2 separate regions of the Homo sapiens genome follow, and region 1 is linked to region 2. The links come from fine-mapping of genetic effects on gene expression. Tissue or cell type: whole blood. Region 2 holds a variant in brackets; the other region holds the start of a gene. Each region is shown on its reference strand, or each on the opposite one. Region 1 holds the start of H4C4 (H4 clustered histone 4). Region 2 overlaps NPAT (nuclear protein, coactivator of histone transcription).

Region 1 (5,251 bases), not on the chromosome of region 2:
TTCTGTAAAGAGCTTTCAGGTCAATGGAAGGACATTCCACAATACTAAATAAGTTTAGTAACAAAACTGAATTTTGTGTGATAAAGTTATGCTGCTTACAAAGAGACTCAACAATAAATAAGCTTAAAGACAGATATTTTTGTTTCATGGAACAAATCCATTGTGATTAGTCCAGCTTTGTGAAGCAGCTCTGCTCCTTGTGATCAATCAGGAAATTTCGTTCCTTCCAAGTCAATGTTCTGTCATCTCCTAGGGCCTGATGTTCTCTAATTGCTCAAAATGAAATCAATACCATTATACTTGGGGAAGAAGGTAACATGGAAGTTTCAAAGCCCAGACCTGGTAGTAACTTTTCTATGTGTCTCACCTGTGTTGGAAATAATGTAGCCACATGCTTACATCTGCTCCCAGAAAGACCAGGAAATGTTGTCTCTTGCTAGATAGCCACCTGTCCAGCTTTCTTTTTATTATGATAAAGTGAAAAAACTTTATTGGAAAAATAAGGGTTTACTCAATATTCTCCACAAATTAAAATCCATTTTGAGGACAGCGAATAATACAGTGGCATACTGATAGTCCTGCGATTGTAAGGACTGGAGTAACCCACTAGGGAATGGCTTACTTATTTTTGTCTCATTTCCTGAGGTGTAAAGGGAAAGAAGGTGGGAATTTAATCATGACAACCTCGGTTTTAAACACCCATTCATGCAACCACAGTAACCTGATCTATGATTTAAGGTAAAATGACTTCTGTTAATAATAAAGTCTAAGACTATTTAAGATAAAAGGACAACAAAAAAAGAACTCGTTCAACATACCTTTAAATTGGCCACGGGTACATAAATAAAAAGTCCTTTTAAATTCAACAATAGAAAATCAGTAGATCTGGATGGAAGGCAGCTCAGAGGAACAGAACCAAACAAGTTGGCCTCTCCCCATTCCACTAAAAAATGTTGAATCTTATGTACTTTCATGGTTGTTTCTCCCACGGTAATTACTACTTTCTTCTTTAAAGAATGTATTTGCCAGTCAAGTGCCTCCAACACACCTCCCATCCCCCCACACCAATAACCATCTGAATGCCATTTTGTCTTCCTTTCATATAACAATGCCTTGGTAGGAACTAGTAACTACCTCCATTTTTTTCACTATTCTTCACGGCAGCATCAGCCTTTACCACTTGCCTTCTGAGATACAGGTTTTGCTACCTTGTTTCTCCAGCAGCTACAGTCTTTGCTACCTTGTTTCTCTGATAGCCATGAAGAATGTTAGCAGCAGTTTGCCATGTTTCCTTACAGAAATACAGAAAACACAGGCCAAGCGTGGTGGCTCACGCCTGTAATCCCAGCACTTTCGGAGGCGGAGGAGGGAAATCTCTTTTGAGCTTGAGTTCAAGACCAGCCTGGGAAACATGGCGAAAACCCATCGCTGCAAAAAATACAAAGATTAGCCGGGTGTTGGTGGCGCAAGCCGGTTGCCCCAGCTACGCAAGAGGCTGAGGCACAAGAATCGTTTGAACCCGGGAGGCGGAGACTGCAGATTGCCGAGATCGCGCCATTGATTACTCCAGCATGGGCGACACAGCAAGAGTGAAAATAAACTTTAATACACTATCCTCACCGGCCAGTAAGATATGAAGCCAAGGCGTAATAAGACCATTTAACTTGAAAACCGGAGCTACTAAACACGTGAAACTACACTTTTAGCAGTGACTACTACTCTTTCTCCTGAGTGGATAGGTGGCCCTGAAAAGGGCCGTTGGTTTTGCGGTAGTGTACTGTAGAGGTAAGCTCAGCCGCCGAAGCCATAAAGAGTGCGTCCCTGGCGCTTGAGCGCGTACACCACGTCCATGGCTGTGACTGTCTTGCGTTTGGCGTGTTCCGTGTAGGTGACAGCATCGCGGATTACATTTTCCAGGAAAACTTTCAGCACTCCGCGAGTTTCCTCATAAATGAGGCCAGAAATACGCTTGACGCCGCCGCGGCGAGCCAGGCGGCGGATAGCGGGCTTGGTGATTCCTTGGATATTGTCACGCAATACCTTACGGTGACGCTTGGCGCCACCCTTACCTAGACCCTTTCCGCCCTTACCGCGGCCAGACATCTTGAAACCACAGCTGTTAAATCTGTAACGCAATACGTCTGGCAGAGCCACGCAGCACTTTTATAATAGCATGACGGACCTGTTTGAAAACCTCATGAGAAGGGGCGGGAACCACAGTCAGTTCCCGCCCTTCTGTGCAATTCTCCCTTGCTCAGACTGGAGGAGACCAAGAGGGGCCTGAGGCAACAAAAGAGCCTCAGCTGGGATTTAATAAATACTGCTAGGTATATATATATATATACACACACACTATACTTGCAGCCATTAACTGAGCCATCAGTTCATAAACTTTCGACAAAGAAGCCTGACAATTGTCCCCCACTTTTCCCAGAATATCAAATAATTAGTACTGTTTCCCTCACAGGGTGCTTTTTTTTTTTTTTTTTTTTTTTTTTTTTGAGACGGGTTCTTGCTCTGTTGCCCAGGCTGGAATGCAGTGGCACGATCTAGGCTCACTGCATCCTCTGCCTCCCGGATTCAAGCAATTCTCCTGCCTCAGCCTCCCGAGTAGCTGGGGTTACAGGCGCCCGCCACCATGCCCAGCTAATTTTGGTATTTTTTTAGTAGAGACGGGGTTTCACCATAGGCCAGGATGGTCTCGAACTCCTGACCTTGTGATCCACCTGCCTCGGCCTCCCAAAGTGCTAGGATTACAGGCGTGAGCCACCGCGCCGGGCCATAAGGTGCTTTCAAAGTATTTTAAGTAACTCATATCTTTATTGTCTCTGAGATTATTTTTATTGATTTATGCATTCCTAGTTAACCAAGCAGGGCTCTTTGGCATGCAGGCTAGATAGTGCTACTGAGGGAACTAAAAGTATATGAAAGTTACACATTTAGAGGTCAAATTAGGATAAGATCACCGAGGGCCGATTGAAAACATGACTATGTACACCCGTAAAAGAAAACCTTGTTGGGCTGAAATTTATGAAAATTTATGCTTTGATTGTGCCTTTAATCATGGACAGATTGTAGCTAGCACTGCATCATTCACCATATTCTATTACTCCAGCAAATTGGCATCATAGTATCCCTCCAAACTATCATAGAGACAGCCTGCTTGACATACATGCTGTGGGGGTGACCCTGGGCAAGCTATACTAAGTTTCCTTGTTGTAAATGTATTTTTAAAAATCTAACTTGTAAGTATTTGTTAAGTTGAAACAGATAATCCTATCAAAATGCTTAGAATAGTGTCTAGATTCCAAATAAGCAATGACTAAACATTAATTATGGTATAGTACAATATTGTGGGTGTTTTCAATTCCTATCCTTAAGGTTCACCCTTCTAAAGGGATGAGAGACAGTATTCTAATTTGCTAAAATCTGATTTCGAGAACTCCTCAAAATAATAAATAATTAAAAACTTAACTCATCATTAATCCCCATAAAAAGTTCCAGGTCCTTTGGGTGGAATATTTGGCTTTTCCTTCATGACTTGTGAGAAGAACCAAGTTTATCACAGCTGTTTGCTGTTTATTGAGTTTATGGTACATGGAAAAGATTGCAGAGTAAGGTTCTTAGCCTGGGATACATAGAAAGTCTTCAGGGGATCTGGGAATGAGTATAGAAAAAAAAAAAGTCAAATCTTTTTTTTTTCTTTTTACTATTCTCCAACAGAAACAGCATTTTTTCTGTGTATGAACTCAGGCAACAAACAGTGTAATTGGCAGGACAAGTGCTTCTATTTATATCACATTCTCATTGCCAATATCTCGAAATTTCATTTAAAAATCTCAATCCTAAAGCCGGGTGCAGTGGCTCACGCCTGTAATCCCAGCACTTTGGGAGGCAAAGGCGGGAGGATCACGAGGTCAGGAGATGGAGACAATCCTGGCTAACACAGTGAAACCCCATCTCTACTAAAAATACAAAAAAATTAGCCGGACATGGTGGCGGGCACCTGTAGTCCCAGCTACTCAGGAGGTTGAGACAGGAGAATGGCGTGAACCTGGGAGGTGGAACTTGCAGTGAGCAGAGATCGTGCCACTGCACTCCAGCCTGGGCAAAACAGCAAGACTCCATCTCAAAAAAAAAACAAAAAAACAAAAAAAAACCTCAATCCTTCAAAACTATAATAAGTCTTAGTCATATGGGTAGATTATTATTTAATGTATTAATTTAAAAAGGACATATGCCAGGCCATGGCTTATGCCTGTAACTCCCAGCTCTTTGAAAGGCCCAGATGGGAGGATCACTTGAGGCCAGGAGTTCCAGACCAGTCTAGCCAACATGGCAAAACCATGTCTCTACTAAAAATGCAAAAATTTATCAGGCATGGTGGCGCACAGCTACTTGGGTAGCTAATCGCTTGAACCTGAGAAGCAGAGGATGCACTGAGCCAAGATCGTACCATTGCACTCCAGCCTGGGCAACAGTGAGACTCTGTCTCAAAATCAGTAAGTAAATAAAATAAAAAATTTAAAAGCACATATGTTAATATTTCACCAATTTAGATTTTTTATAATTTGATAATGGCATACTAATATAATTGTTTCACTTTGCATTCCTATATATTATCTAATGCATTTAAAACCACTATTCTGCGCGGGGCATGGTGGCTCATGCCTGTCATCCCAGCACTTTGGGAGGCCGAGGTGGGTGGATCACCTGAGGTCAAGAGGTCGAGACCAGCCTGGCAACGTGGTGAAACCGCGTCTCTACTAAAAATACAAAAATTAGCTGGGAATGGTGGTGCATACCTGTAATCCCAGCTACTTGGGAGACTGAGGCAAGAGAATTGCTTGAACCTGGGAGGCAGAAGTTATAGTGAGACAAGATTAAGTCACTGTAATCCAGCCTGGGTGACGAGTGAAATTCCATCTCAAAAATAAATAAATAAATAAATATTATTCTGGCCGGGTGCGGTGGCTCACGCCTGTAATCCTAGCACTTTGGGAAGCCAAGGCTGGTGGATCACTTGAGCCCAGTTCAAGAGCAGCCTGGGTAACATGGAGAAACCCTGACACTACTAAAAATACAAACATTAGCTGGGCATGGTGGCATGCTCTTGTAATCCCAGCTACATGGGAGGCTGAGGCACAAGAATCACTTGAACCCGGAAGGCAGAGGTTGCAGTGAGCCAAGATTGCACCACTGCACTCCAGCCTGGGCGACAGAGTGAGACTCCATCTCAATAAATAAATAA
Region 2 (5,251 bases):
AATTGCAATCTTTACACTGTTAAATTTTCAAATCTATGAACATGGTTCTCTTCTATTTATACATCCTTTATGAAAGATTTCAAATATTCTCCATTTCTAACATTTTTGGTTAGGTTACTTCCTTTATACTTTATCATTTTTGTGGTCATTATAAACAGTATCTTATTTTGTATAACACTTAATAGGTGTTTATTGTTGGCACCTAAAACACAATTTTAATTAACCATACCTGGCAACTTTACTGAATTATTAGTTCTATTAATTTTTCTATTAACTCCCTGTGGCTTTATTGTGTAAAAATCACATCATTTTCCATAACAGTTTAATTCCCTCTCTTCAAATCTTTACACCTATCTCTTTTCTTTTCTGAGACAGGGTCTCACTGTTGCCCAGACTGGAATGCAGTGGCATGATCATGGCTTACTTACAGCCTCAACCTCCTGGACTTAAGCAATCCTTCTGCCTCACCCTCCCGAATAGTTGGGACTACTATCTGCCACCACAGCTGGCTACTTTTAAAAAATTTATTTTCTAGAGATGTGGTCTCACTATATTGCCCAGGCTGGTCTCAAACTCCTAGACTCAAACAATCCTCCTGCCTCAGCCTCCCAAGGTGCTGGGATTATGGGGATGAGCCACCATGCCCAGCTCCATTTTCTTACTGTATTGTCTGGAACCACATATGTATGGATGTATGGGACCTTGTTTATGGTGGAAGTATAATCAGATGTCAGTGGGGCAAAAAACTGATTACTTAATAATTAATTTACTGGTGTTGGAAACACTGGCTTATTACATACAGGGTGGGAATGAGTATCTTTGTGTTATTCACAGCTTTAAAGGGAACCCATGATGTTTACTATAGATAGCCTTTAAGAGCTTTTATCATAAATGGATGCTTAACCTCACCAATGTTTTTTTCTGGTATCAACTTTGTAAGGGATAAAAACAAGTGTCAGACTGTGAAGACATCTGTGATATGTTACTAATAAAAGTATAACACCTCAACAGACAGGAAATTTAATAGAGAAGTAGGAAAAGGATATGAATAAGCAATTCACAGAAGGGAAAATATTATTTATAGTTATAAGAGAAGATTCCAAACTTTATTAGTAATCAGAATAAAGTAAAAGAATGATATGAGATACTACCACTTTAAATCCATCATAGTGGCAAAAGTTAAAATATCACATGGTATCAAATATTGGTAGTGTTGTGAGGGAAGCAGGGAAAATAATGGTAGAAGTATAAATTTTCTTCTCTATGACTCAGAAATTCTGGGTCATAGAGAAGATATACTTCTTCTCTATTATACCCAGTATACCCAAAGATTTCTGGGAATAAGCCCCCAAAGAAACTCTCATATGGGTTCACACAGAGGCATTTACAAAGATGTTCCTCATATCATTGCATGTCACATCGAAAACATCTGAAAAGTCCACTGATAGGACATATATAAAATACATTTATGCAAGTGATAGATATCAAATGGCCATTAAAAGGAATGAACTAGTTATAAGAAAGAACATAAAAATAATATAGAGTAGCTATAACAGGACATAAGTCTAAGAGGGTGCCTCAATAAGTCAAAATGCAACTTAAGCCTACATCAATAGATGTATACTGTTTAGTTTAAGGAAAGGCTGATTTGATAGCAGTTAGTTGAGTTCTCTGTATAATGAGTGCATTTAAGATACTCAGACTACTGAGAAGAAATACAATGTAATGTGTTAAGTGCTGTAGCATAGGTATCACTAAGAATTAAAGAAAAAAATAAAACCGGAATATCCACCTCAGCCACCGCTGGTTAAAAATGCTTCCTAGGAACATTTAAGTTAATTTCGAAGGATAAATAAGAACCAGATTGAGGGTAAGAGTTGGGTAAGAAGGGGGAATTCTAGGTAGAAGAGATAGCATTGGTAAAAGGTACAGGGACAAGAAAGATCACCAAGTATAAGGTGAGCAGCAACTATAGTTTGTACAAAGGGTCCATGCTGGGAAGTGGTAAGAGATGAGATGGAGAGGTCGAGAGTGACTAGATGACAAATGTATGCACATATGTCACCCTGAGAAATTTCAATTTTATCCTTTGGGCAAAGGGGAGTTGCTGAAAGTTTTTAGGCAGGAAAGCAACATATTCAGATTTGTATTTTAGGGAAAAAAAGTCACTCAGCCAGCAGATATGAGGTGAACTGAAACAACAGAGACTAAAAGAAGGGAGACTACATGACACTATTGATACAACTTAGATGAAAAATGACAAATACTTGAACTAAGAAGGAGAGGAAAATGTGTTTTAAGAGTGACTACCAGGTTTTTCACAAGTAAACAGATGGTTGGGACAATGGCTAAAACAGGGAACACAGGAAGGTAATTTGCAAACTTTAAAGCCTTGCTTCAAGTGTGGTCCAGTACCAGCAGCACTGGCATTGCTTAGAAGCTGTTAGAAATGAGGAATTTCAGGTGCTGTACCAGACCTATCAATTCAGTACCTGCATTTAACAAAATCCCCAAATAGTTCATATACACACTAAACTACAAGAAGAACTGCTCTAAAGTCTCATACAATTATACGAGGCATTCATTAAACACTTGAAAGCTGTTGGGAAAAATAGGGACTATACTTAATTTAGGGAAGCTGCAAAGAACAAACCAAGGACTACTGGGCAAAAGCTAACAGATTCAACAAAGGAGACAATTTTCTCAGAACCAAAGCTGTTCAGTAACAGTTGGCTGCATTATGACATCTGTTACTAGCAAATGTAGGGTGATCACTTGTTTTAAAATGGTTTAGGTATTCAGAAAGAAAACATTTAGGTGTTGCTGCAAACAAATGAACATACAAACATAAAGTTAACATTAATGAAATTAAAAATGGTACCTATACAAGGCTT[G/T]TTTCTTAGTCCCTGAGCCTTCTGAGATTTTGGAGGGACGGGGAATTGAGGGATACTTCTATTGCATACAGGTGCTGTCAAAGGCATATGAAGAACCTGGAAGAGAAAAAGCCATTAATTACACTAAGCTTGAAAAGCATCACCACACCATTTTCAGTTCATAAATCTTACCTGCCGAGGAGGAGTAGAAAAGTTATTTCCATTCTGTCCAACCACAGATACTGGGATCATCCCTACCATTCCTTGGAGTACAGGCTGGACTGGAGAGGCAATTATTATGGCAGATCCTAAAAAAACAATTCTTGTTAAAAAAAGATTTTCTCTGAAATGTTTTGGCACAAAACAAACAAATGTTTGGCACAAATTAATTACTGCTTTGAAATAAATTCTATGAACAATCCCTCTTCCTTACGATCCACTCTCCAAAAACAAAACAAAACAAAACAAAAAAAACGAAACTGAAACAGTTTTAGGAAAAACAGCAAGGCTAACAAATTAAGAAAAAGTCAATCCAAATATTAAGGTGGTCTTAATGTTATTCAGTCAGTGAACCATGCTGATCAAGCATAAGACTCTACAGCCAAGACATCATATTACAATCATATCTGGATTCCTCTAGAAATAATGAAACTAGTTAGAAAATGAGTGGTGAATGTTTCAAGTCTGAACCTTACACCAGAAAATTACAACCCCAACTGAATATTTATACCCAGGACTACACTTGTAACCCCAACCTATTACATATCTCAATGGTATTGATCAAAAGGGGGTAAGGTAAGCACGTAACTGGTCAAAACTATGGAGGGAAAATTACAATGTCTACATGGTCCTCAGAAGTCAACAACATAGTTTGTGGCTACTGTAATTTAGTCCTGTCCATAAACAAACTTTTGCCTAATACACTACTGTCAGGTTGATCCCCTCATTTTCATGCAACCTACTACGGTCTCTCTGTCTATGCTGGTGCTGCTTCTCTTTATAACTTACAGATTTTATAAGTTATAAAAACTTCCTTGCTTTAACTCCAAATCCTACCTTCATTCTTTAAGCTTTAGCTCAAGCCCCACATTCTCTATTAATTCTGACCTCTCCTTTATGTAATTTGTAACAGCACGTAAAACAGACCCATTAGGTTTAATACTAATTGTTGATATTTAATGAAATTTTATTGTATGTCTATAATGTAACAAAAAGGGAAAAGAGGGAAGCTTGGGAACCAACACATAAGGAAATGTAAATAAATGTGCCATGAGCACTATCTCTGAGGAACATACAATAAAAAATTATCAATATGATAGGCATATCAATCACTAACTACATATAACACAGCACGCAATAAATGCCACAAGAGCCCCTATGAAAAAAGGATTTTTTTTTTTTTTTTTTTTTTTGGAGACAGAGTCTTACTCTGTCACCCAGGCTGAAGTGCAGTGGTGCGATCTTGGCTCACTGCAACCTCTGCCTCCCAGCTTTAGATTCTTCTGTCTCAGCCTCCCAAGCAGCTGGGATTACAGGTGCCCACCACCATGCCAATTTTTGTATTTTTAGTAGATACGGGGTTTCACCATGTTGGCCAGGCTGGTCTTGAACTCCTGACCTCGGGTGATCTGCCCGCCTCGGCCTCCCAAAGTGCTGGGATTACAGTCATGAGCCACTGAGCCCAGCCATAAACAAAGGATTTTAAAGACAGAGATCAATTAGAAAGGATTTTATAAAGGAAGAAATTCAAGTTTTTTTTTTTTTTTGAGACAGAGTCTCGCTCTTGTTGCCCAGGCTGAAGTGCAATGGCATGATCTTGGCTCACTGAAACCTCTGTCTCCTGGGTTCACGAGATTCTCCTGCCTCAGCCTCCCAAGTAGCTGTAATTACAGGCACCTGCCACCATGCCTGGCTCATTTTTTTGTATTTTTAGTAGAAATGAGGTTTCACCATGTTCTCGAGGCTGGTCTCAAACTCCTGACCTCAGGTGATCGATCGGCCCACCTCGGCCTCCCAAAGTGCTGGGATTACAGGCGTGAGCCACCATAACCGGCTGAAATTCAAGTTTTTCTTGAAAATTTCTCCAAAAAGATGATGAATTCCCTGAAGACCATGACTATAAGAGCTATTTTTAAAAACTCCCCCACAACATTGGGTTTTATACAACTATGTGATGAATTAGTCTGTCTTTTCTGTTTATTGTAACTTACTAGCACATAGATTGAGAAGTATTTGTGAAAAGAAAAAAGAAAAACCACTAAAGCCCATAGCTTACTAGCAGATTAAGAAAAATAAAAAAGGTTTGAATTAGCTAGCATAAAGAAGCAGCGTAATCACAAATTTCAGAATCTTTTCTCATACCATCTACTCATTAGTTA

Evidence for each region.
Region 1: H4C4 starts here. The variant in region 2 is fine-mapped to the expression of H4C4 in whole blood (TOPMed, PIP above 0.99).

The regions. Positions count from the first base shown.
Region 1 is chr6:26,186,974-26,192,224 of GRCh38, forward strand. It overlaps H4C4 (H4 clustered histone 4), which reads right to left and starts at 2,139. Exons shown (of 1, transcript NM_003539.4): 1 at 1,737-2,139. The coding sequence starts at 2,103. The coding sequence ends at 1,792. RefSeq lists enhancers at 740-1,365, 2,148-2,327.
Region 2 is chr11:108,166,863-108,172,113 of GRCh38, forward strand. NPAT (nuclear protein, coactivator of histone transcription) reads right to left here. Exons shown (of 18, transcript NM_002519.3): 14 at 3,066-3,181; 15 at 2,882-2,990. Among named protein-coding and RNA genes, the nearest start is that of ACAT1, 48 kb to the left of the region's middle. The variant G/T (reference allele first, on the strand shown) is at 2,895.